7 linked regions of the Homo sapiens genome follow. The protein of the gene in region 1 interacts with the protein of each later gene in a pairwise test. Each region holds a gene or a part of one and is shown in the gene's direction. Other genes may lie near its edges. The genes, in order: VSX2, JPH3, KIF1B, LRIF1, APBB2, NDUFV2 and PRPS1.

Region 1 (3,974 bases):
TTGCACCTGACTGGCTAAGAAATCCTGGATGGAATCTTCCCAGCCTGGTTTTCCAATCTCTGCTTAAAGCAATGGACCTAGTCCTTATCTCCCCATAGGGTGCCTTCAATTCAAGGAACCTACCATGAACTGACCATATGCTAGGCGCAGTGAAGAAGGGAGCCTCAAGGTCGATAAGATAGTTCCCAGCCCCAAGAAGGTCACAGAAGAGTTAGCTGAGGTGGTGGAGTGCAGGGGAAAGCAGCTTACCTTTTAATTTCCTCTCACCCGCTTCCTCCTTCCTCTCCCTCCACATCAACAATCCCTTCCTCTTCATTCTGTTTGCTCAATGAACTCTGAAGTATAGCAGGGCCCTTGCCTTGTCTGATTTACTGCGGAACCCCTGGCTACCAGGTCGGAGCTAGTAGCTCAATACATATTAGTCGAATGAATTGGGTGGAAGAATCAAGTCCTCCCATGAAAGTTGGGCATGCTTCATGCTTACTCTAGGAAGAGGTTTGGATGTCCATGGTTGTTCTCCAAAAGTAATCATCACTGTTCCTCTTTCCCACCAGGGACCCCTCTTTCTGACCCATTTATCATTCATTCATTGGGCCAATATGTGTTGAGTAGCTCTTCCGAACTAGGCATTATACCTTGTGCTGGGGAAGCAAACTTTCCCTACCCCTACATCACCCTCTGCACACCTTGGCCTGATCTTTTCCCAGCTTACCACCACACACACTGCCCCAGCACTTACCTCTCCCTTGTTCAACCGTTTACACAGAGGTGCCATATTCAGGCCGCCCTGATGCTGCCAACCTGCATAGGAGTTGAGGGAAGGAGGTCTCCCAGTCTCTCACCTCTGCCCTTAGCCCATCCTTCCACCTGACCTCAGGGACCTGTCCCTGCCAGAATCTGCCCAGAGCCCCAAGCCACTCTGCCTCCCGGAACAGCCCTGAACCTGAACCTGGTTGTCTCACTTCGGCCCCTGGGGTCCCTGCCCATGGGCATCCTGCAGAGCCCACCCGGTGCTCCACCCCCAGCACCCTGGCCATTCGACATTGCCTGCGGCGGGAGCTGCCAGCTTTTTGGAATTCCTAATCGCTCCTGGCCCCGGTGATTGGCTGCTCAGCTCTGACCCCACTTGGGCTGCCGCCTGGTTGGATAAAAGGGGAATCTCCTTGGGCTCCAGAGCATTAGACACCGGAGGGGGCACCTGGGACCAACTTCGCGAAGCGGGAAGCCCGGCGGGGGGGTGGGGGGAGCTAAAGACCTGCGGCCTCAGCCCCTCCAAAGAACAGGGAGATGACGGGGAAAGCAGGGGAAGCGCTGAGCAAGCCCAAATCCGAGACAGTGGCCAAGAGTACCTCGGGGGGCGCCCCGGCCAGGTGCACTGGGTTCGGCATCCAGGAGATCCTGGGCTTGAACAAGGAGCCCCCGAGCTCCCACCCGCGGGCAGCGCTCGACGGCCTGGCCCCCGGGCACTTGCTGGCGGCGCGCTCAGTGCTCAGCCCCGCGGGGGTGGGCGGCATGGGGCTTCTGGGGCCCGGGGGGCTCCCTGGCTTCTACACGCAGCCCACCTTCCTGGAAGTGCTGTCCGACCCGCAGAGCGTCCACTTGCAGCCATTGGGCAGAGCATCGGGGCCGCTGGACACCAGCCAGACGGCCAGCTCGGGTAGGTGAGGAGAGGTTGCGCTGCTGCCTGACTGGGGGGCGACAGCCGGGAGCCCCGCGCCGTCGGCTCTCGCTTGCTGGACCAGGCCTCCAGGCGGAAAAGTTCCTGCCAGGCCGGGGGTCGCCGCCTGGGCCTTGGGCCGACGCGCCTGGTGATGGGGCCCGGGAGGATGCTTCGGCGTCCGCAGGGTTTCGGCCCCAAGCGTTTCGGGCGGCCGCGCAGTTCTCCAGTCCCCGCGTCGGGCAGGGCTCGGCCACGGCACTCTGTTGGAGCCCCACTGAAAACTGGGTTTGGGGTGTCGGAGCCCGTGGTGCAGAGTCGCCGGCCGTGTCGGAGGGCCCCAGCACCGCTGCTCCACTGCGGCCCCGGCCTGGTGTAGGATCCGCACTCCTCGAGCCCGATGCTGTTCCGGCTCCGGCCCCATCCCTGGTGTCCAAAGTTGTCTGATTCCCAAATCCCGCGCTGGTCAACTGGGGTTTATTTTTCACCCCCACGAGCTCAGACAACCCGGCCATCGCGGCAGCTAAAGCGGCCGCCATCCTCTCCCACGTAAGCGCCACTATATACTGGAGCCCGGGGACGCGCGGGCTCGGGGACCCTGGGTGACCTCTCCGCCTTCTCCCCGCGCTGCTTTCCGGGAGGTGTGTCGCGGCCCGCTCGAACCTCCGATTCCTGTTTGAGCTTGGCAATTCCCCCGATTTTTCGTTGCGTTTTACTTTGTTTTACGTGGAAAGGCAACGAAAACCAGCGCGTCGCAGGCTCTCGGGCCTCGAGTAGGGACGCATTGTGCCGCCTTGCGAAAAGGACGGTGCTCGGCAGCCCCCAGTCTTCCCGGAGCCCAGCTCCCCACGCCTCCGCTCCGCTCCTCGCTCCTCGAGGCCAACTTTCCGGCCCGGGGCATTGGGGCTGGCCGCGCAGGGCAGGGCGCAGCAGGGTCGCGAGCGCTGCCGGGGATCTCTGCGGCCCCCTAAGGCTGCCTCGCTCTCCGTCGTCCCGGTCCCAAGCGCGCCGGGGCCTTTGCCTCTCTTACAACGAAATCTGTTCAAAACCTCCGGATTCGGGCCCCGGCGCGGGAGAGGTCAGCCTGAGCTCAGGGATGGGACGGCCACCGGGGCGCCCGCAGGCTTCCTGGGGAGACAGAGCAGGTCCCCGCCGCTCGCGGAGGCAGCCCGGGGTGGGGCCCTCGCGGGTTTCGGGCACAGCGGAGCGCGTCCCCCACTCTGCCGCATGTCCCTACGCCCGCTTTTCAGATTCTGAAGATGTTTCCTCCAGCGATCGAAAAATGTCCAAATCTGCTTTAAACCAGACCAAGAAACGGAAGAAGCGGCGACACAGGTGAGGCCCCCGCTTTCTGTTACCTCTCCTGCCCGCGCACCCCGCTGCCGTCCCCCGTTCCGGGATCGGGTCTCTCGGACCCTATTTTCGCCGACAACGGATCTGAGGTCCGAGGCCGTGCCAGGGCGCAGACCACGGGTTGTTTGGCGGAATCTGCCCGGGGGCCTTGGCGTCGGCACCGGTTGAGCAGGATGAGTGGCCGCCGGGAAAGCGGCCCGGTTCGGGCTTTCTCCTCCTTGTTCAGGAGAAAGGAAAGGCTCCAACACAGGCCAAACTGAGCCACAGAGTGGGGGCGGTCCCCAGATCCCCGCACCAGTACATTCTGAGAGCCACACAGACCCGGCGGCGGGCAGATTAGCTCCCACCTCCTGCCAGAGCCGGTTCTTTGCCCTCGGCCTCAACCGCCGCCCCCATTTCTCTCCCGGGGTCCCTGTCCTCTCTGCCAACTCCCTAAGCTTTCTGCTCCCACCGTTCTCCAAAGCTGGAGCGATCTCTGCACTGACAGAGCATTTTCTTTTGGCTTCTGCTCATTCGTGATTCTGACCGAGTCGCTTCCCTTCTGTGAGCCTCAGTTTCCTCGTCTGCAAAATGGAGTGGTAGGCGATGTAGACTGGACGGTCCCACCAGCCGTAGCTGGAGTAGGGTGGACTGCATCGGGGTACAGACTAGAAAGGGTTTTGTTTTGTTTTGTTTTGTTTTGTTTTTGTCTTTAAATGGAAATTACTTGCACAAAGTTAAAACTCAGTAGATGCCGACAGGTATATCTTGAAAAGTAACCTACCCTTCTCCCACCCCCGCCCTCATTCCCTTCCGCACCAGCCGCACTGCTACCAGTTCCTTGGGTACATTTGTAAGGTGGTTTTCAAGGAAATAAAGGAGAAAGAACCAAAAATCTGCCTGCCTTTCTGCGGGTGCTGCTCGCAGGTGCTGCCCCGGCGCTCACCTCGGAGCTATTTCCCCGCACCCCACTCCGTCCCCATCA
Region 2 (3,500 bases), on another chromosome or scaffold:
CACGCCTGTAGTCCCAGCTGCGCAGGAGGCTGAGGCAGGAGGATCGCCTGAGCCCAGGGGTTCCTGGCTGTCGTGAGCTGTGATGGTCTCACTGCACTCCAGCCTGGGCAACACAGCGAGAACCTGTCTCAAAAAACACAAAACAACAGGAAGCTCAGACAGGACTGTGGCTGCTTCAACCCTGTCCGTGGCCAGGCTGTGCCCCCTCCTCTGTCGCTGGGCACTCACCCCTCTCTCATTTTCTCCCCAGGGACCTACCAGGGCCAGTGGGTCGGTGGCATGCGCCAGGGCTACGGCGTCCGGCAGAGCGTCCCGTATGGCATGGCCGCGGTCATCCGCTCACCCCTGAGGACGTCCATCAACTCCCTGCGCAGCGAGCACACCAACGGCACGGCGCTGCATCCCGACGCCTCTCCGGCGGTGGCCGGCAGCCCGGCCGTGTCCCGCGGGGGCTTCGTGCTCGTGGCCCACAGTGACTCCGAGATCCTCAAGAGCAAGAAGAAGGGGCTGTTTCGGCGCTCGCTGCTGAGTGGGCTGAAGCTGCGCAAGTCGGAGTCCAAGAGCAGCCTGGCCAGCCAACGCAGCAAGCAGAGCTCCTTTCGCAGCGAGGCGGGCATGAGCACCGTCAGCTCCACGGCCAGCGACATCCACTCCACCATCAGCCTGGGCGAGGCTGAGGCCGAGCTGGCGGTCATCGAGGACGACATCGACGCCACCACCACCGAGACCTACGTGGGCGAGTGGAAGAACGACAAACGCTCCGGCTTCGGCGTGAGCCAGCGCTCGGACGGGCTCAAGTACGAGGGCGAGTGGGCCAGCAACCGGCGCCATGGCTACGGCTGCATGACCTTCCCGGACGGCACCAAGGAGGAGGGCAAGTACAAGCAGAACATCCTCGTCGGCGGCAAGCGCAAGAACCTCATCCCCCTGCGGGCCAGCAAGATCCGCGAGAAGGTGGACCGCGCCGTTGAGGCCGCTGAGCGGGCCGCCACCATCGCCAAGCAGAAGGCTGAGATCGCGGCTTCCAGGTAGGAGGGCGAGGGGGCGGGGGGCCCTTCTTGGTGCCCAGAAGGTGTTTGTGAGCCCAGTCTGTTCAGTCCTGCTGTCGCTCAAGGCCTTGGGCTAGGCCCAGTTTGAGGCCTACACTGGTGTTTCTCAAACTATGCCCCCATGGAACCCTAGGGTTCCCTGGAGGTTCTCAGAGGTGACTGTGGTCAGGATTGGTGCAGAGGAATGGTTGATTTGTGGGGGTGTAGAGGCCTACAGCCTCCTTAAACTGAGCAGTGTCTCTTTGTTCTATATGCTGATGTTTAGTGTAAAATATTGGTGAATAAAGAAGGTGGTCTGTTCCGTTAGTACAATGCATTGGAGTGCTGCTGTGCTAGCTAGTAGGGGTGACACCACCAGGTGGGGGTGGCAGGTCCAGCACTGCAGGGCTGTGGGAGGTGGCTAGGAGCTGCCTCAGCTACCCAGACCTGCGATCTAGATTCTTCCGGGACCCTGGGAGATGGCAGCAGTTGGGAGGCCAATTCCGAGTGCCTGGCAAGGGGCTCATGCAGGCCTGGTGCTTTGGGGGCAGCCGCTGTTCTGAATCGGCTGCATGACTTACGGAATTTGGGGTCCAGTGGGGCCTCTAGGCCCTAAGGAATGGGTCCAGAGGTGACTGTGGGTGGGATCGACGTGGCTTTTGGGTACCTTTAGGGGTGGGTGCAGGATGGGGCCTTTAGGGCTGGAGGAAGGTGCCCAGGGTCTGGCTCCTGTGGAGGTGAGTGTGTGAGCCAGGGGCTGGTCCCCGCCAAGCTGTGGCTGGCAGGAGCCACCTGCTGCAGGTTGGAGGAAGTTCCCCTGTGGAAAGCCACGGGCCCCACAGGTAGGCATTTGGGTTCTAAAGTAACTGAGGTTACTAAAGGGCTTTGTCAAGACTTGGGAAGGCATTTCAGAAAACCCAGAGCCTTTGCTTTCCACCGGCATTTGCTTTCCTGGGCCAGACGAGGGCCCTTGGGGTAGCCCGGAGAGTCTTGGGGCAGGGATCTGGGAGCTGCGGGGGAGTCCATGGGCTGCCCAGGCAGGAGGCTTCCCAGGGCACGTTCCCCTGCGTCTTTCTGGATGGCTTTGTGTTCTCAGCCAGGGGCAGACCTGGAGTTCCTCCAGGAAAGCTCCCAGCCTGGGTGCGGCTCAGCCCTTCCCGACCTGTCGCTAATTAAAGTTCAGCCCATTTGGTTCTGATTTTCAGTGACCTTTGATCTATAGTGAAAAACAAAAATGGTGGCTGCGGTTTGTTGGCAGAATATGTTGCTCGCGACTTCTATTGTTTTAGAGGGAATCAAGATCGATTCCAAGAAGCTGAAAGAAACATGGAATTACTACCTGACACCGAGGTCCAAACTCGCTGTTTGCCCCTCCCTGCTCCCTCAGAAATGTTCAGGCAGGGAAATAAACAGCAGCCCACGTGTGACTACTCATCTGGGGTTTTAAGAACAAATTAGAATCAGTAGTTATTTTTTCCATCATAAATGTAATACTTGTTCCACAGGAAAATAAATAACACTGAGAAGGGAGAAAGCAGCATTAGCTCTGGTCTGATGGATCGGCCGAGCGCTCTCCTTGGCATTTTGGTGAATTTCTTTCCTCTGTGTTTTGTTTTTCGACCCTTTCTATTTTGTATAGTTGCTTTTTTGACCCTAGTGGACAAGAAGCAGTTTTGGGGGCTGGGGGACAGCGGCGTCACGGAATTGAGGAAGCTCGTGGCAGCTTCCGTGTGACCTGCAGATTGGTTCATGAGTTCATTGGTTCATGAGTTCTCAGCAGCTCGAGGACTTAGTGGACAGTGCCCTGCAGGACTGAGCTTATTTCACAGCCTTGGCACTGGGTGGATGTCTGTAGGACTGGGGGGACCTGCGACCTGAGATAGTTTTCAGACGAATTCCCCTAGACATTAAGAGAAGCGGGTTCCCATTAAGGAGCCCAGGTGGCATGGACAGGGCTGGGGGCAGCACAGGTGAGGAGCTGCTCCAAGGCAGGTTGTCAGCCTCTCTGGACCTCAACTTCTAATCTCTGAAGGCCTGTGAAGCTTAGGTGGTAACAGCTCCCTTCCTGGGGCATCCAACCTCTTCCTGGGGTTTTGGGGGGCCCAGGGGCTCTGTGGAGCATTGCTGGGGGAGATGCCTACGTATAAGTGGGCATCATGCTGGGGTGAAAGCCCAGGGGCTGGGCCGGGAGGGCGAGACCTGAGACCCATGCAAAGGAGCCGGGGCCAGGGTGGGGTGGGCACGGCTCCTACTGAGTCCCCAGCCCTTGGGACGCTGGCCAGCCAGCCTTGGCATGGCCAGCATCCCTGTGTCTCCTGGGGAGGCATTTTACTTAATGGACAGAAGGACAGACAGACGGGTGGAGGGAGTGAGAGGGAAAGGATGGGTTTGCAGGCTGGTGCAGCTGTGAAACTGACGGAGCCCACCCCCTGCCAACCCCCCGACAGCCTTTGAGGCCCAGCAGCCCATGCT
Region 3 (3,500 bases), on another chromosome or scaffold:
ATCTTTTATAGTTCCTTTTCCTACCCCCTCATCTGACTCTTCTTTCATTCTTCCACATTTGCTGGCACTCTCTTGAGTAGATTTTGGCCTCAAGACCATGTGACTTATTTTTGGATTCCAGTGGGTTATTTTCACTAAAGAAGGTTGGTTTTTTAAAAAGATTTTAGAAATATTAGAGTTAGATGAAGAGGATTGTTAGAAGATGTTTATCTTATCGAATATCAGTAATTTTACTTTTTTCTTTAAGGTAAAGACTAATAAATTAAAATCTTTTAAGGTAAAGACAAATTAATAACTGGGATCAGAAGAACTGATAAAAATTATAGTGGGAAGTGGTGGGGGGGTATGGGGACATTTTAATAAAAGTAAATATTTCTTGAGATTTTTACCCAGGCATTTACAAAAATTATAATTATTCCGTTCAGAGAATTGGCCTGTCATTTTTTCCTTGTGCTTTGACCTTATCAAAAATTAGGTCTTGTTTTTTTATCCCAGAACTCATGTTTTAAAATGGAATGCCAGGCACAGTGGCTCACTCCTATAGTCCCAACACTTTGGGAGGCCAAGGAGGGTGGGTCAGTTGAGGTCAGTAGTTCGAGACCAGCCTGGCCAACATGGTGAAACCCTGCCTCCACTAAAAATAGAAAAATTAGCCAGGCGTGGTGGCGAACACCTGTAATCCCAGCTACTTGAGAGGCTGAGGCAGGAGAATCACTTGAACCTGGAAGGCAGAGGTTGCAGTGAGTCAAAATCATGCCGCTGTACTCTAGACAGAGCGAGACTCTGTCTCAAATTAATTAATTAATTAAAATAAAATAGAATGCACTTGGTTCCGTTTGGTGAGGCCTGAAGAGAGTGTTTTCTCTTTATTATGGAACCGCAACTAGGGATAAAAAGAAATCCCTCTCTAGGCTCTGTGGAGAGTTGGAGAAGCCTGGCCTCTTGTAGGCCCCTGTTGTTACCACAGCTCTCTCATGGTGCCCTGCTCCAAATTGATCATCTGTAATCTTTTTCAGACCCCACATCTTGTTAACCTCAATGAAGACCCACTAATGTCTGAGTGCCTACTTTATTACATCAAAGATGGAATTACAAGGTATATTTATTTCCTGTTTTGGTCACTTCGTGTGTTTTCCCCCTCTTAGATAATTGAATAACTAAAGGGAAGGGGTTGAAAAAATTAACGTAATGATTTGCTGTATTTTTTGTCTGAAATAGTTACAAACTATGCTCTCTTTCCAAATAATGTGTTTTTGCCACTGGAGCCAGTTACTATGTAGTTTTTCTCTGAAGACCCTAAATAATTTTTTTTTCCTTTAACAAATATACATTCCTTAGGGATTTTATTTGACTCATGTCTTTATAATACTGTATGAGTTACATTGGTATATCAGTGCTCCTTGTTTCTTATTCTGATGTAGAGAGGTTGATCATATGTGAGGATAGAATTCATAGTTGAAAGCTTCTGATGCAACAAGGCAATACCTTTTTTGTACGTACCAAAGGATATTCTTTGGAATAAAGAGGTTCATTGTTTGTAGTGCTTTCTGTGTCTGAATTTCCCTGGGAAACACTTTCTCTTGTGTTCAGGGTTGGCCAAGCAGATGCTGAGCGGCGCCAGGACATAGTGCTGAGCGGGGCTCACATTAAAGAAGAGCATTGTATCTTCCGGAGTGAGAGAAGCAACAGCGGGGAAGGTGAGCATTCCTGGCTGGAGCTTCAGCAACAACATTTTCATTTTATATTATGAGAAATCCTTAAGACTTTGTATTCTCTGTCTATCAGTAGTACTTTCTTATACAATCTAATTCTGAAAAATGGAGAGACCTGGGCTGCTTATGAATGCAGAGATGGACAAGGCTGCTTTACATGAAAATAGCTTGGACAAAAGAAGCCCTTTTTTACTGCCAAGAACTGAGAAGGACATAGGCAATTAGGCTTGGTCTGGAATGTTAATTATTTAATAGAAAAGTAAGAAAATAGCAGATATCCTGGGTAATAGGAGATTTGAAGGACATTAAGTCAACCCAGCAGAATTTATTTTTATCTAAAAGGGAAGAAAAAGTCAGTCTTGATTTTTGCCTGGGTTATTAACAAAACAACAATTTAATGGTTTTTTTCTGTTATATAAGTCACTCATTCCCTTATCAAAATATTAGCTTCTCAGTCTTTAGTTTCTGGTTATTACCTATATCTCATCCTTACAATTTCTGATGGTTCTGAGTTTTATTGACTGAACCGTCAGAGATCCCTGAAACTAATATTTCCTATCATCTTCTTAGGTTTATCAAATAGAGTTAAATGTTCTTGTGTTAGCCATGGCCACAGATAGCCTCTTCTATTGGGGCTAGTTCTGGTACCCCAAAATGAACTACTGTATAGACAACTTCAGCCACTTGATTGATTGCAGGGATTTATTCTACTTACTGCAAATCCTGATAAGCAACTGCTTTCCATTATTTGATTCCAATAGTTTGTAATGATAACATTAGTTTGTGTTTGTTCCTCTTAGTTATCGTGACCTTAGAGCCCTGTGAGCGCTCAGAAACCTACGTAAATGGCAAGAGGGTGTCCCAGCCTGTTCAGCTGCGCTCAGGTGAGACTGGGAGAGGTTTGCCATCTTCAGCAATGTGCACATGGCTTCTGTGACAACTCTAATTTTTGGCTGTTTAAAGGCTGAAGTAATAGTCAGCATTAGGATTTTTGTTCTTGTAAAAACAACAGCTCTGAAAGCTGTCTTTTCACATTAGGGAGGGGTGAGGTTGTTAAATAGATACTATATATTAAAAAAATTATTTCTTAACCCTATTTTTCTGTTTTGTGCTAGGAAACCGTATCATCATGGGTAAAAACCATGTTTTCCGCTTTAACCACCCGGAACAAGCACGAGCTGAGCGAGAGAAGACTCCTTCTGCTGAGACCCCCTCTGAGCCTGTGGACTGGACATTTGCCCAGAGGGAGCTTCTGGAAAAACAAGGAATTGATATGAAACAAGAGATGGAGAAAAGGTAATGCACAGTTACGCAGCCCATATGACTGTTTCTTCTTTTAAACATGTAATACTAATAGCATTCTTGAATTTTTTTTTTTTTTTTTACTTCTAGGCTACAGGAAATGGAGATCTTATACAAAAAGGAGAAGGAAGAAGCAGATCTTCTTTTGGAGCAGCAGAGACTGGTAGGAGTCCTGAATCTGCTAAACTGTTGGGAAAAGGGCAGCTTGTTCCCATACTTTCCCTGTTCCACAGAGCAGTACTCACCCAAATTGCTTCTGTCTCAATGATACCAAGCACTATTCTTTAATTTCCTTAATGGAGAATGAACTTAAATCTCCCGGTAGCCTTAGCCTGAAAAAATAGTCCACAGAGGTACTCTTTTGGGCTTTTTATGTCTTAAAGCCAAATCTTAACTTCTGTTACAACCAAATACTTTTTAAGGAAATAGAGCTTTTCTGGTAGCCTTTGCCTCTTGATAGTGGTTTTGGAATTTGCTTCAGTGGTG
Region 4 (3,500 bases), on another chromosome or scaffold:
AGACTGACACAGGTGTACATTTTAGATAACGTTGGCAGTCTGGATTTGAGGGTGAGTGATCTACATATAAGGATCCTATTTCAGTTGTCTTTTCAGAAATTCTGAGGGCCTGAACTAGCTGGTACAGTACAGTAGGGGTTGGATTCAAAGAAATATAGAAGGGAAAATAGACCGACTTCGTTAATGAATTGGCAGGAAGAAAGGGGGATCAATTATGATGCCAGTTTTCTGGGTGGATATTGGTAAATTAACTGAGATGAGGAACACATCAAGAAAGCAGTCAGATATTTGAATATGAAACTCAGGCTGAGTCAGAGCTGAGACTAGAGATTTGGGAAGCATCACCTTAGAGGTACTATAATGAAAGCCTGTGATTATATATCCTACAATAATAAGAATTAAGACATCATGTGATTGGCCATTGGCAGCTATCTTCCCATAACCATTTGTATTCAAATGGGGAGCTAAACTTAAGTGTTCTCAGCAGGGGGTTTGGTTTGACTGGAATGATGATGCTTCATTGTCAGTTCAGTATGCATTTTGTTGTGTACAGTGTTTTATTTTGTGATTTGAGTGTGTCTGTGTGTGTGTGAGGGAGAGACAGACACACATACTATAGAGTCTAAATGAAATCTGTCATTAATCTCTTAGTTTATACATTTGAATTTTTTGGACCCTGTTATAATGGGGTTATGCTAAAGTAAATATAGAAAGTAGATAAGCTTTCTCAAGGGGAGTGTGTAATTCTAAGTAAGTTATTAAATGTTTCCAAATCTCCATTTTCTCAAGTATAAAATGGGAATGGCAGTTCATAACTTTCTTGACTGTTTATTAGGATTAGAGTTAGTAACAACTGGTATATCTATCATGTACGCAATACATGGTACATATTATTGGATAGATAACTATGTTATGTACTTAGATATATTATGTTCTATATGTATATAATGTTATGTCATAGATAGTAAGAAAAGGATTTCCTAGCAGTTGAAAAAAATATATTTTGCAAAAATATCTATAAAATGTTCATCAGCCTTCAACATTTTTATTAGTCTATTTCTAATATATGAATGCCTCATATCAATATTAGAATAGTAAAAAATGTCAGAAGTTATATAACATTACCAATATGTTTAATGTGCCTTTTTATTAAATTTCTCATTCTTTTTTTTTTTTTTTTTTTTTTGAGATGGAGTCTCGCTCTGTCGCCAGGTGGAGTGCAGTGGCTCGCTGCAACCTCGACCTCCTGGGTTCAAGTGATTCTCCTGCCTCAGCCTCCCAAGTAGCTGGGACTACAGGCGTGTGCCACCACGCCCGGCTAATTTTTGTATTTTTAGTAGAGACGGGGTTTCACCATGTTGGCCAGGATGGTCTCGATCTCTTGACCTCATGATCCGCCCACCTCAGCCTCCCAAGGTGCTGGGATTACAAGCATGAGCCACTGCACCCGGCCATATTTCTCATTACATTTTTAAAAGACCTTATCTTACCTTATTCTCAGAGACCAATTGCATATTTTAATGGAAGATGATAACTGTTATGCTCCCAGGCAGTTATTTCATTTACTTCTCCTAGTAAGCTTTATTTTCCCCTATTTAACAAATGAAGAAACAGATTCAAAGAGGATAAGTACATTTTCTAGTCAACTTGTAATTATAAGAACCAGAATTAGTAGCCTGTAATCTTTCTAATATGTTCCTCTTTTCTCTTTTAAACTGTTAAACTGTATTATTTTTCAAATGTAGTTTCTCAGTTTGAACACCAGCTGGTTTAAAGTAATTACTTTAAAGTAATTAGGTGACCAGACTAGAAAATGGGATGCAGAATCTGGTTCTAGTTTTAGTTCTGACATTAGCCCGCAGAATATGATCTTTCAGAAAACAGAATCTTTGTAGGACTTTAATTATTTAATCTCTTCAATGGAAGGCTCCTTCTAGATATGAAAAACTGTATATTGATAGAAGGAGTACGAATTTCATCCTGAGTTATTACTTCTTAGCATTCTGCAGATTAATTTTTAGAACTCATTACATTTTGTTGCCAAGAAATCATGGATTTTTAAAAAAATTATACCTTGTAGGATTCAATTCAGCTAACATTATTGTGTGCAATTTCCAGTTTCTGAATTAGATGCGGAGTATATAGATATGAATAGGATAATCTACCCTGCAGGAATTTATGGTCTGTGGTAGATTATGTGACTCTCACTGATACACTGACATGGAAGAAGCTTAATTTTTCTTCCTTTTTTTTATTTTTTGGAGGTGAAATAGAGGAAAAGAGAGGGAAAAATTTAGTGATCAGATTGGAAAATAGCTCACACAGTATAGTTTTTTTTATAAAGCAGAAATATAGACATCATATAAAATACTATGCTTGGTATTGGAAGGATATTTGCAAAATAAATTATAAAGCCTCTCACCTTAAGGAGTTTCAGTCTTATTGAATGAAACAATACTCATTTTAAAAAATTAGCTAATAGATTAAAGTCAATAAAGAAAGCATTATATAATTTCCAACATTAATAGCACCAATGGGAGTACATTCGGGATTCCAAGTTGGAAGAAATTAAGCTGGAGTGACTGGCAGATATTTTATGGAAAAGATAGAATTGGAAACTAATTTTATATTGTTGGAGAAGAAAAATAATAATACTTTGAGTAAATAATGTAATATACATGGCATATTCCAGAATAGCAAAGAGATCTCTCTGGTAAGAGCAGAGATTTCACATTGAGAAGTTGTGGGTGGTATTGTTGTAGAGATTGGTTGGAGCTAGATTGTAGATGATTTTCGCGTCCAGCTGAATTGGCAATGATGAATACTAAAACTTTGAACAAGAGATAACAGGATGAAAACAATTTTAGTCTGCCAGAGATACATAATAGTCAATAGTGGCTGCAATCAGAAAAACAACATCAGCAAAATACTGTAGGGATGAGAATGATGAGTGCTAGACACATCTGATGAGGATCTCATGTAGATGGTGGAAGTCACAATGATGAAGAAAGAAAAGATGGATGAAATGGGTTAAAAAGAAAACCGTATAGACTTGATGATTCAGTATGCATTTATTAAATGTTTGCCTTTTGTAAGGACATATGCAAGGTTCTGTGGATGAATTTAAAGTAAATAAGAATGATGATAAAGACAAATCAGCAATGACTAGGTGATTTGAAACCTATATGATGTGGAAAATATTGGCGCTGCCATATGATTGAATGGTAGGATAGACTACTACTTTTCAATAGAGAGTAATTTTAACTTCGTAGATTTAAAGTGATGGGATTAAAATGTTTGGTAAGACATCACAAATATGGAACTGATGTCAATTCCAGTAGGGGACAGGAATAAAAGGATATAACTATGGGAGTCATTATTCCAAAGAAGATAGTTGAAAATAGTTGAAGCCGTGAGAATTGTTGCAGTCTTTTTTTTTTTTTTTTTTTTTTGAGACTGAGTCTTGCTTTGTCGCCCAGGCTGGAGTGCAGTGGCGCGAT
Region 5 (3,500 bases), on another chromosome or scaffold:
ATGGTGAAACCCTGTCTCTACTAAAATACAAAAAATTAGCCAGGTATGGCAGCATGCACCTGTAGAATTGCTAGAACCCAGGAGATGGAGGTTGCAGCGAGCCAAGATCGCACCACTGCACTCCAGCCTGGGCAACAGAGCGAGACTCTTGTCTCTAAAAAAAAAAAAACGTGGGTTGATTACTGGGGGAACTCAGTTATCTTCCTATGTCTCTGATTGTGCCCTTTGAGGTTACATTTTCTCTGGGCATCAACCACACCTAATTAAATAGGACACCAAAAGCTGCTACTTTACTTAATATACATCAAAGAGACAGTAGCAGCTTTAACACATAGATGCCACTTCCTGCTTTCACATGCATTCCTATCTTGAAAGTTGAACAGGATTTTAACAGAGCCCCAATATCTGGAGTAATGCTGCTCTTGTAGAATAGTTGTTACATTTACATCCAGAAACATAGGGCGTTATGGCACAGGGCGTGTCCTGAGCATTCAGATGATGCAGAGCCACGGCTGTTGTGTACATGTGTGTTGGAACCACTGAGAAAGATGTGTTGCTTTTGTTCCCTGTAGTAGATTTTCCAACACCAAAGACTGAGCTGGTCCAGAAGTTCCACGTGCAGTACTTGGGCATGTTACCTGTAGACAAACCAGTCGGTATGTGAAATGTTTATTGTCTTTCCACTTTGCAAGTGTGCGGGAGCTCACAGGAGGCGTTCGCCCTCCGAGGAGGGTGAGGTCTGCTGTTTACTCTCACGCCTTGTCTTGAATCAAACTGTCACACTGTCACCTGCCAGAGAACATAAACGGTCCTGATCAAAAGATGAGTAGAGGGACAGGCCCCGCTGCTTTGACCTGTCATCCCCAGCATGCAGGACTTTAGCAATACAGACGTGGATTTCTTGTTTACCCAGTAGTCCAGAGCTGTGTGACTCAGGGCCGTGGAAGAGCTCCGCTGCTCTGAAACGAGGCCTCCATCTCTGAGGCCAGGGCACCTGCTTCGTGTCTTGTCAGCTGGCGGGCCAGGAGAAAGGACTGTGGAGGCTTCATGCTGTCAAGGAGTGACACAGTAGTGGCACACACAGCATTCAGCTCACATGCCAGGGGCAGAGTGTAGTTGCTGGGCTATACCAAGCCAAAAAGAGACTGGGAGATGAAGCCTTCACCAGGGCTAAAAAAGGCTGTGGAGAAATCGCAAGCTACATATACTGCCAAGGGGGCTGTAAGATGGTGCAGCTGCTTTGGAAAACAGTCTGGCATTCTTCAGAAGGTGAAACATAGTTACTTTAGACCCAGCAACTCAGTTCCTAGGCGTAGACCCAAGAGAAGTGAAAACGTTTGTGCATGCAAAAACGTGTATGCAAATGTTCACAGCAGAATTATTGATGAGAGTCAAAAAGCGAAACAACCTGAATGTCCTGACAAATCAACTGACAATTAGATAAATAAGATGTGATACTTCCATACAGTGGAATTTTATTTGGCAATAAAAAGGAATGAAGGACTGAAGTGCGCTGTAGCGTGGATGAAGCCTGAAAACATGCTATGAGGGAAGTCAGTCCCAAAAGACTGCATACTGTGTGATTACGTTCATATGAAACGCCCAAAATAGGCAGAGCTCTAGCGTCAGAAAGTAGGTAAGGGTTGCCTTGGTCTAGGGGTCTGGGGAGTGGGGGAAAAATGCAGAATGACCCCTACCAGGCACGGGGTTTCTCTTTGGGGTGATGAAACTGTTCTAAAATTGATTATGGTAGGTCTAGCATGGTGGCTCACACCTGTAATCTCAGCACTTTGGGAAGCCAAGGCAGGTGGATTGCTTGAGCCCAGAAGTTCAAGACCAGCCCAGGCAACATGGCAAAACCTCATCTCTACAAAAAAAATTCAAAAAATTAGCTGGGCATGGTGGCATGTACCTGTAGTCCCAGCTACTCCAGAGGCCGAGGTGGGAGGATCATCTGAGCCTGGGAGGCTGAGGCTACAGTGAGCCGTGATTGTACCACTGCACTCCAGCCTGGGTGACAGAGCAACACCCTGTCTCAAAAAAAAATTGATGATGGTGATGGGTGCGCTCTGTGAATGTACTAAAATCCACTGGATTGCACACTTTACGTGAGTGAATTGCATGTGAATGATACCTCAATAAAGCTGTCACTCCCACCCCTATCCCCCAGAAAAACTGTGGAAACAGCTGGCAAAAGGGCCCTACTCAATGGGGGGATCCACTGTAAAGGTGCCATCAAGAGACAGTGAGGGTGGAGAGAGGCTGAAGGGCCATGGTCTGCATAGGTAGACAGCGTCTAAGGCACCAGGTCCCCGGAGCTTCTCCTGACTCTCCTCTCCTACTGAAAAGGCTGTTATTTCTTTTTTTTCTTTTTCTTTTTTTGTTTTTTGAGACAGAGTCTCACTGATACTTGCCCAGGCTGGAGTGCAGTGGTGCGATCTCAGCTCACTGCAGCCTCCGCCTCCTGGGTTCAAGCAAGCATGTCCAGCTAATTTTTGTATTTTTAGTAGAGACAGGGTTTCACCGTGTTGGCCAGGCTGGTCTCGAACTCCTGACCTCAAATGATCCTGGCTCAGCCTCCCAAAGTGCTGAGATTACAGGCGTGAGCCACTACGCCCGGCCAGAAGCTGGTATTTCATTCCTGTTGAGCAAACATGAGAATGAAGTGTCCTGTCTATTAAAAAAAGATCAGTCTGGGCGTAGCTGTTATTGGTGATTTGGGCCCACATTTGAGTGTGGTAAGTGGCTTTAGGACACTTTAAATTATCCTTTTCTGTCCCCAGGAATGGATATTTTGAACAGTGCCATAGAAAATCTTATGACCTCATCCAACAAGGAGGACTGGCTGTCAGTGAACATGAACGTGGCTGATGCCACTGTGACTGTCATCAGTGAAAAGGTGAGAAGGAATCTTCGATGACATTGGTGTGTCTTATACAGTGAGTATAAGATACAGTGGTTTTCTGTGGAACTTAGGAACATAGTCAAGGCCGGAGTTGTGCATCCTTGTGATTAAGATGGCCTACATTTGAAAGATTTGGCCCTTTGTCTGGGTCTAAATCTGTGCATACCTCTGTTTTCCTGTGGCCTGAGAAACTTCTCTTCTGGTGCTTCTGATTCTGTCTTCCTCATGTGCCCCAGAGAGAAATTGTTTGCTAGAGGTGAGTGTGTGACGCTAGTAGTCGCTCACTCTCAGGGCGCCAGTATTGCCTGGGCTGTGTGATCTGGGGATGAAAAGCAGAAGATGCTTCCATTTGGGAGAGTCCTGTGACTATCAGTAGCAGAAGGAGCTATTGGTTGTCTTGAGAAGAGGCCACATTAGCCTCAGCCCAAATTATCTCAGTTTCGTGGTTGAAGAAATTGAAGCACAGAGAGGCTAAGTCATTTGCCCAGCATCACACAGTTGGAAGCAATGGAATCAGGACTTAAATCCAGGCAACCTGGCCCAGACTTGTGCCCACTTTTCTATTCTGCCTCTGTGAAGCACCTGCCAGGGAAAG
Region 6 (3,500 bases), on another chromosome or scaffold:
GTGACTCTTGCACAGGCAAATAGATATCTTGGTGGATTTAATCTGTAAATATTAGGGATCATCTAAAAGGTATATTCCTTGCCTTAGTTGGCCTCTAATAAAGGAAAAAAGAAGGGTTTTTGAATTGCCTGACCTTAGTCTTGTCTTTCTGACTAATTAGATTACTGCTTCTGTCAGTTTTGTCTTACAGCTTCTTAGTCTCTTATTAACTTCTCTTAGCTGGATGCATTTATAATGCAAATGTCTGATAGAACTGAAAAGTGAGCTTCGTTGGATGGTAGTATTGTTTGAACAACAGAAGAAATTCAGAAAAAGAGTAGAGCCCATGAAAAGACAATTAAGGAATCCTATTGGGGAGAATATAAAACTTTAATTTTTGTCATTTTGAGCTATTGGTATTGCCAGTGACAGTAAAAGGGAAAGGCTGGTAGAAAGAGCACAGGGCCCTTAGATTGAAAGAGCCTGGGCTCAAAATCCAGGTCTGTCACTAATTGTGCGGTATGGGGCAAGTTACTGTCTTTGAGCCTGAGTTTCTCTAAATGTAAAATGGAAATAATGACTCACTACAGATTTTTTAGGAATCGACGAAAAAAAGTATGTAGAAGAGCTTAACACAGAGGCACTCAAGTTTACTTGACTCCAACGAAAAGGCAGTCACTGTTTTGGCCTGCTTAAATCTTTTCTTTTCCTTCTGAAACACTGAAAAAAAAATAAGCTAGAATTCAAACCCACTGTTAATTTTGAGCTGTATATTAGGTTATGATCTTATTTACTTAAAAAAGTTACTTGGTTGCATGCTTTTCTTCTTAAAAAAAGGAAGTTACTTGGATTTTCAATTGGACTCAATTGGAATTTCTTGAGGTATAGACATTTCAGAGTCTAATGAGAAGCTAGATTCTAGAGAAAAGACTAGACTGTACTCAAAGAAGGGGGTGGGTGGGAACTCAGCTTATTCTTTGAATCATTCCAGCCTAGCTAGGTTGTTTTTTCCAGTTTTAAGCCTGGTCCTGGAATGCCTCTTTATTTCAAAGTGAAACAAAATTGAAATGGCCCAGTAAGTAGTGTAAAGATGTTAATGAGAACTTTTAATGTTTTATTCCTTTATTGAAAGTGTCTGACGTAGACATTACAATGAATGTAAAATAGGTGATATTCTTTAAACACACCAAAAAAACAATTTTCAAAGCCATTTTCAGGCCACCTGTAACTTGATAGGGATGAATAACAGTTTATGCCAGTTGAAAAAAACCGAGAGCTAAGATTTATCAGTTTATCTTCACTATTTAGTTTGTTTCTTTCTTTATTGTTTGTTTACTTACTACTTTTTTGAGACAGGGTCTCACTCTGTCTCCCAGGCTTGGGTGCAGTGCATGATCATGGCTCGCTGCAACCTCAACCTCTTGGGCGCAAGCGATGCTCCCACCTCAGCCTCTCAAGTGGCTGGGACTACAGGCATGTGCCACCATGCCTGGCTAACTTTTGTATTTTTTGTAGAGACAGGGTTTCACCATGTTGCCCACGCTGATATCAAACCCCTGGCTTCAAGCGATCTATGGGGCTTGGCTTTCCAAAGTTCTGGGATTATGGGTGTGAGCCACCGTGTCTGGCCAGCTTCTTTTATTTTATAAACATTATCTCAGCCCTTCTTATACAACTTTGAAGAGGTCGACTTCGGACTTTGAAATTAAGTTGCTCAAATGTTATGCTAGTGTGTATACGTTCAGGTTTTTTGCAGGAATAGAAGAGAAGGGTGGCAAGGATTAAAAAAAGATTAAATAACTTGCATCTTTCTCTCTTAACAGGAGCATTGTAAGCCAAGGAGGCAGGGCTTTTCATTTCTTATCTGCCTGCCTGTATATATGGAGGCCTGATTTTCTTCCTTAAACTCCTTGGTTTCTTAGACCTACTATGTTCTTTTAAAGCTTTGATGTCATCAAACAGTCAGGTGGCTAATAATAAGGTCATGGCCTTTGTAATCATCTGGCCCTAGGATCTAACATAATTTCTGCCAATAATTAGTGATGTGACCTAACCTTGAGAAGTTTTCATAACTCATTTAAATTTCTGGGAATAATACCCACCTTGCAGGAAACTTTAAGAATTAAATAATGTGTAAAAAGCTTAGTGCCTGACACATAGTACTTCTAATAATAATAGCTAATGATAGCCAACACTAATACAGTACTTACCATCTGCCAAGCAGAATATTAAGCACTTTACATGAAGTACATCTTTTTTTTTTCCCCCCGAGACAGAGTCTCACTCTGTTGCCCAGGCTGGAGTGCTGTGGCACGAGCTGGGCTCACTGCAACCTCTGCATCCTGAGTTCAAGCGATTCTCCTGCCTCAGCCTCCTGGTTAGCTGGGATTACAGGCACGTGCCACCACGCCCAGCTAATTTTTGTATTTTTAGTAGGGATGGGGTCTCATCATGTTGGCTAGGCTGGTCTCGAACTCATGACCTCAGGTGATCCGTCCGCCTCAGCCTCCTAAAGTGATGGGATTACAGGCATGAGCTACTGTGCCCGGCCTGAAGTACATCTTTTAATGCTCTCAAGAACCCTATGAAGTACATGCCGTTATTTTTCTGTTTTTATAAATGAGGAAACAGGCTCTAGAGCTGAGCTTTTAGCCATTTTGCTATATTGTCTCTCCATACATAGGATATTTATGGAATATTAGATAACAGTGATACATCCCACCTTCAGAGGTGCTAGAATGTGGAAAATGTGTTTATTAGAAATGATGAAATTGACATTTCATATACTAGAACGTGTTTGGTGTTGGTCATCTTTTACACCACACTCAGCATCAGAAGGGTTTTTTTTTTTTTTTTTTTGATAGAGAATCTCGCTCTGTCGCCCAGGCAGGAATGCAGTGGCTCGATCTCAGCTCACTGCAACCTCCACCTCCTGGGTTCAAGCAATTCTCCTGTCTCAGCCTCCCAAGTAGCTGGGACTACAGGTGTGCGCCACCACACGCGGTGAATTTTTGTATTTTTAGTAGAGATGGGGTTTCACCATATTGGCCAGGCTGATCTCGAACTCCTGACTTTGTGATCTGCCCACCTTGGCCTCCCAAAGTGCTGGGTTTACAGACGTGAGCCACTGCGCCTGGCCAGAAGGATGGTACTTTTAAAATTAGTTTGGTGATATTAGACAGGATGTTTTGGATTGAGAAAAAGGGATCAGCCAGAAGACTTACAGTAATGCACAGACATGAAATAATGTCTGAAATAGTGGTGATAGTAAGACAGGGAAAGAACTAAAGACTTCATTGGGTTTTTTTGTTTGTTTTTGTTTTGAGACAGGGTCTCACTTTGTCACCCAGACTGGAGTGCAGTGGTGTGATCTCAGCTCACTGCAACCTTCACCTCCCAGGTTCAGGCGATTCTCCCACCTCAGCCTCCTGAGTAGCTGGGACTACAGGTGTGCGCCACCACACCCGGCCAATTTTTGTATTTTTTGGTAGAGATGCAGTTTCACCACGTTGGCCAGGCTG
Region 7 (3,500 bases), on another chromosome or scaffold:
CTGGGATTATAGGCGTGAGCCATCACGCCCGGCCATATGAAATAATCTATGCACATGTTCCCTTATACTTTATTGTTATTTATTTATTTTTTGTAGAGATGGGGTCTCACTGTATTACCCAGGCTGGTTTTGAACTCCTGGGCTCAAATGATCCTCCTTCTACCCTGCCCCCTGCTCCCCAAAGTGCTGAGCCACCATGCCAGGCCCTCCCATATATTTTATTTTATTTTATTTTATTTTTGACACAGAGTCTCACTCTGTTGCCCAGGCTGGAGTGCAGTGGTGTGATCTTAGCTCACTGCAACCTCCGCCTCCTGAGTTCCAGCGATTCTCGTGCCTCAGCCTCCTGAGTAGGTGGGACTACAGGCGCCTGCCACCATGCCCTTCTAATTTTTGTATTTTTAGTAGAGATACATGGTTTCGCCATGTTGGCCAGGCTGGTCTCGAACTCCTGACTTCAAGTGATCCACCCACCTTGGCCTGCCAAAGTGCTGGGATTATAGGCATGAGCCACTGCGCCCAGCCCTGCCATATACTTTAAATCATCTCTAGATTACTTATAATACTTAATACAATATAAATACTACGTAAATAGTTGTTATACTGTATTTAGAAAATAATGACAAAGAAAAAAATCTGTACATGTTCAATACAGGTGCAATTTTTTCTCCAAATATTTTCAATCCACACTTGGTTGAATCCATAGATGTGGAACCTATGGATATGGAGGGCTGACAGTACAGTGGTTTAAAATCTATTTCATGTTCTTTCTTTCCTCATTGTAGTGTGGAAATTGGTGAAAGTGTACGTGGAGAGGATGTCTACATTGTTCAGAGTGGTTGTGGCGAAATCAATGACAATTTAATGGAGCTTTTGATCATGATTAATGCCTGCAAGATTGCTTCAGCCAGCCGGGTTACTGCAGTCATCCCATGCTTCCCTTATGCCCGGCAGGATAAGAAAGATAAGGTAGGAGCAGAATTTTATTTTTTGAGCAGAGGAAGCAGGAGCACTTGCCCCAAATCACAAATAAATTCCAAAATTATCAAATATATATTTAGGGGGAATTTTAAAAATCACCTTTTCTTAGGTATTACCCTATCTTCAAAACAATAGAAATATAATTGGTTTGTATAAAGCAACACATTTGTAGTCTGTATTTTATTACAGTGATACATATATAACTTTCAGTTAGCTCACTGGTATTTTTAATTGTATCAGTAAGACTAAGCACCAACTCCTCTGGAGTACTGGAGTATATTTTTAAAATTACGGTAGATCCTCTCAAACTGTAAGATTGGGATCCTAGTTGTGACCTCTTCATAAAACTTGAAGTCTGTTATATGAATACTTGATCTGATAGATACATAGATAGATAGATAGATAGATAAACTATATATATCTCTCACCTTATCCTGGTATATTAGAGGATAAGGCATATACATAAAACTTTGCAAGTCTATTGTAATTAATGCCCAATTTTACACACAATGCCTCGAAGAAGGTCAGATATTTTTATTCCAACAGAGTATAAAGTAAAGGGCATGGGCCGGGTGCGGTGGCTCACGCCTGCAATCCTAGCACTTTGGGAGGCCGAGGCGGGAGGATTGCCTGAGCTCAGGAGTTTTGAGACCAGCCTGGGCAACGCTGTGAAACTCCGTCTCTACTAAAATACAAAAGAAATTATCCAGGCGTGGCGCTGCGCGCCTGTAGTCCCAGCTACTCGGGAGGCAGAGGCAGGAGAATTGCTTGAACCCAGGAGGCAGAGGTTGCAGTGAGCTGAGATCATGCCACTGCACTCCAGCCTGGGCGATAGAGCAAGACTCTGTCTCTACAAAAAAAAAAAAAAAAAAAAAGGCATGCATGGACTTTGCTATTTTACAGTGCAGCAAGTATGTTTTATTTGAGGAGTTCATAGTTGTTGGAAAGTTGACCTCCAGATGAGTAAGTAGTGATGTGATTTACAAAGGAAACTATAATATCTATTCTGTGATGTATCTTCAAACCTTGACATGTTAGGTGTTAAAGGTTTACATATGTATGTGTTGAAAGAGATTTTAATAAAATTATTTTTTAAAGTCTGCCTAGTTTGAATAATTGAGCATTGGAAACACTTGAATAGGATTGAAAATGTGTACATTAAGAAAACAAAAGTTAGGAAAGCATTTTCTTTATTGATAAGTGTATCCTGATTTGGAAAAGTGATGTTCCACTTAATATTTGTTCTGAATTATGATCCACTTAAAGTCAATGGACATGTCTCCTTCTATGAATTTCTGGGTACCATAGTGCCTTTAACATAGTAGGTACACAATAAATAGTTTCTTGAGTAAATGAATTGTTTTTCAAATTGGCTTTTTGGTTTTTCTTTTCTTTCCTCCCCTCCATTTAGAGCCGGGCGCCAATCTCAGCCAAGCTTGTTGCAAATATGCTATCTGTAGCAGGTGCAGATCATATTATCACCATGGACCTACATGCTTCTCAAATTCAGGTATCAGTGGAAGCTAAATATTGGTGTTTGAAAGGTGGGAGGAAAGGACTGATGATGCTGAAGACTGCAGAGAAGCCAAAAATTATGCCCAAGTACATCTGAAATAAACTAGATATCAACAACATTTTAAATGTGTTCACCTTAAGCATACTTCATGATCTTAGTCATTTCAGGTGGTTAGATAGGGAGGCAGTCTAGTTTTATGGGAAGAGCACTACTTTGAATAAAGGCTCTGGTATTTACTAGCTTTGTAAGCTTGGGAAGGTTACTTAATTTCTCTGAACATATACTTTTTCATTATTGTGAGTATAAAACATTAAATTCATATTATAATGCCTGGCCCATGACAGGTACTCATAGATAGGAGCTGTTATTATCATTCTTATTCTCCTTGAATATTCATGGAGTGCAGTGGCACGATCTTGGCTCACTGCAACCTCTGCCTCCTCAGTTCAAGCAGTTCTCCTGCCTCGGCCTCCCAAGTAGCTGGGATTACAGGCACCTGACACCAGGCCCAGCTAACTTTTTTGTACTTTTAGTTGAGATGGGGTTTCACCATGTTGGCCAGGCTGGTCTCGAACTCCTGACCTCAAGTGATCTGCCTGCTGCAGCCTCCCAAAGTGCTGCGATTACAAGCATGAGCCACCGTGCCTGGCCTCATGGTCTTAAATTTAGAGCCACAGATATTGGAGCCTACTTTCCAACATAAACCCAAAGTAAGGGGGGTGGAATACCACCTTTATTTTATATTTTTTCAAAGAGATTTTTCAAATCATTACATTTCAAGCTTGTGGGAATTCAATGAAGTACATTGGACAGGGACTGTACTCCTTTTATGGAAAGGAATGACTTAATTGAGAAATACAACTAATTTGTATCAACTAGAATTAGAACACAGATCTCCTGATTTCTAATTATTCACTGTGACTATTTATCATAAGTAGCTTCCATTAAGTTTATATGCCATAGCATCTCTAACTGGTTTATCCATTAGCTTTTACTCCTTAAC

Evidence for each region.
Region 2: the proteins of VSX2 (region 1) and JPH3 interact in binary tests that used the Homo sapiens proteins (3 or more experiments, as listed by UniProt).
Region 3: the proteins of VSX2 (region 1) and KIF1B interact in binary tests that used the Homo sapiens proteins (3 or more experiments, as listed by UniProt).
Region 4: the proteins of VSX2 (region 1) and LRIF1 interact in binary tests that used the Homo sapiens proteins (3 or more experiments, as listed by UniProt).
Region 5: the proteins of VSX2 (region 1) and APBB2 interact in binary tests that used the Homo sapiens proteins (3 or more experiments, as listed by UniProt).
Region 6: the proteins of VSX2 (region 1) and NDUFV2 interact in a two-hybrid assay, tested with the Homo sapiens proteins (one large-scale study listed by IntAct).
Region 7: the proteins of VSX2 (region 1) and PRPS1 interact in binary tests that used the Homo sapiens proteins (3 or more experiments, as listed by UniProt).

Annotation. Positions count from the first base shown.
Region 1 is NC_000014.9:74,238,275-74,242,248, forward strand, and holds the start of VSX2 (visual system homeobox 2), read left to right. Parts: upstream 1-1,174; 5' UTR 1,175-1,287; coding exon 1,288-1,657; intron 1,658-2,907; coding exon 2,908-2,992; intron 2,993-3,974.
Region 2 is NC_000016.10:87,644,008-87,647,507, forward strand, and holds part of JPH3 (junctophilin-3), read left to right. Parts: intron 1-250; coding exon 251-1,028; intron 1,029-3,500. UniProt on the Homo sapiens protein: Junctophilins contribute to the formation of junctional membrane complexes (JMCs) which link the plasma membrane with the endoplasmic or sarcoplasmic reticulum in excitable cells.
Region 3 is NC_000001.11:10,294,070-10,297,569, forward strand, and holds part of KIF1B (kinesin-like protein KIF1B), read left to right. Parts: intron 1-1,016; coding exon 1,017-1,096; intron 1,097-1,590; coding exon 1,591-1,697; intron 1,698-2,512; coding exon 2,513-2,596; intron 2,597-2,827; coding exon 2,828-3,008; intron 3,009-3,104; coding exon 3,105-3,177; intron 3,178-3,500. UniProt on the Homo sapiens protein: Has a plus-end-directed microtubule motor activity and functions as a motor for transport of vesicles and organelles along microtubules.
Region 4 is NC_000001.11:110,957,423-110,960,922, reverse strand, and holds part of LRIF1 (ligand-dependent nuclear receptor-interacting factor 1), read left to right. Parts: intron 1-3,500. UniProt on the Homo sapiens protein: Together with SMCHD1, involved in chromosome X inactivation in females by promoting the compaction of heterochromatin.
Region 5 is NC_000004.12:40,823,043-40,826,542, reverse strand, and holds part of APBB2 (amyloid beta precursor protein binding family B member 2), read left to right. Parts: intron 1-572; coding exon 573-656; intron 657-2,783; coding exon 2,784-2,899; intron 2,900-3,500. UniProt on the Homo sapiens protein: Plays a role in the maintenance of lens transparency, and may also play a role in muscle cell strength. Involved in hippocampal neurite branching and neuromuscular junction formation, as a result plays a role in spatial memory functioning.
Region 6 is NC_000018.10:9,109,199-9,112,698, forward strand, and holds part of NDUFV2 (NADH dehydrogenase [ubiquinone] flavoprotein 2, mitochondrial precursor), read left to right. Parts: intron 1-2,839; exon of another isoform or gene 2,840-3,500.
Region 7 is NC_000023.11:107,638,510-107,642,009, forward strand, and holds part of PRPS1 (ribose-phosphate pyrophosphokinase 1), read left to right. Parts: intron 1-785; coding exon 786-969; intron 970-2,392; coding exon 2,393-2,491; intron 2,492-3,500. UniProt on the Homo sapiens protein: Catalyzes the synthesis of phosphoribosylpyrophosphate (PRPP) that is essential for nucleotide synthesis.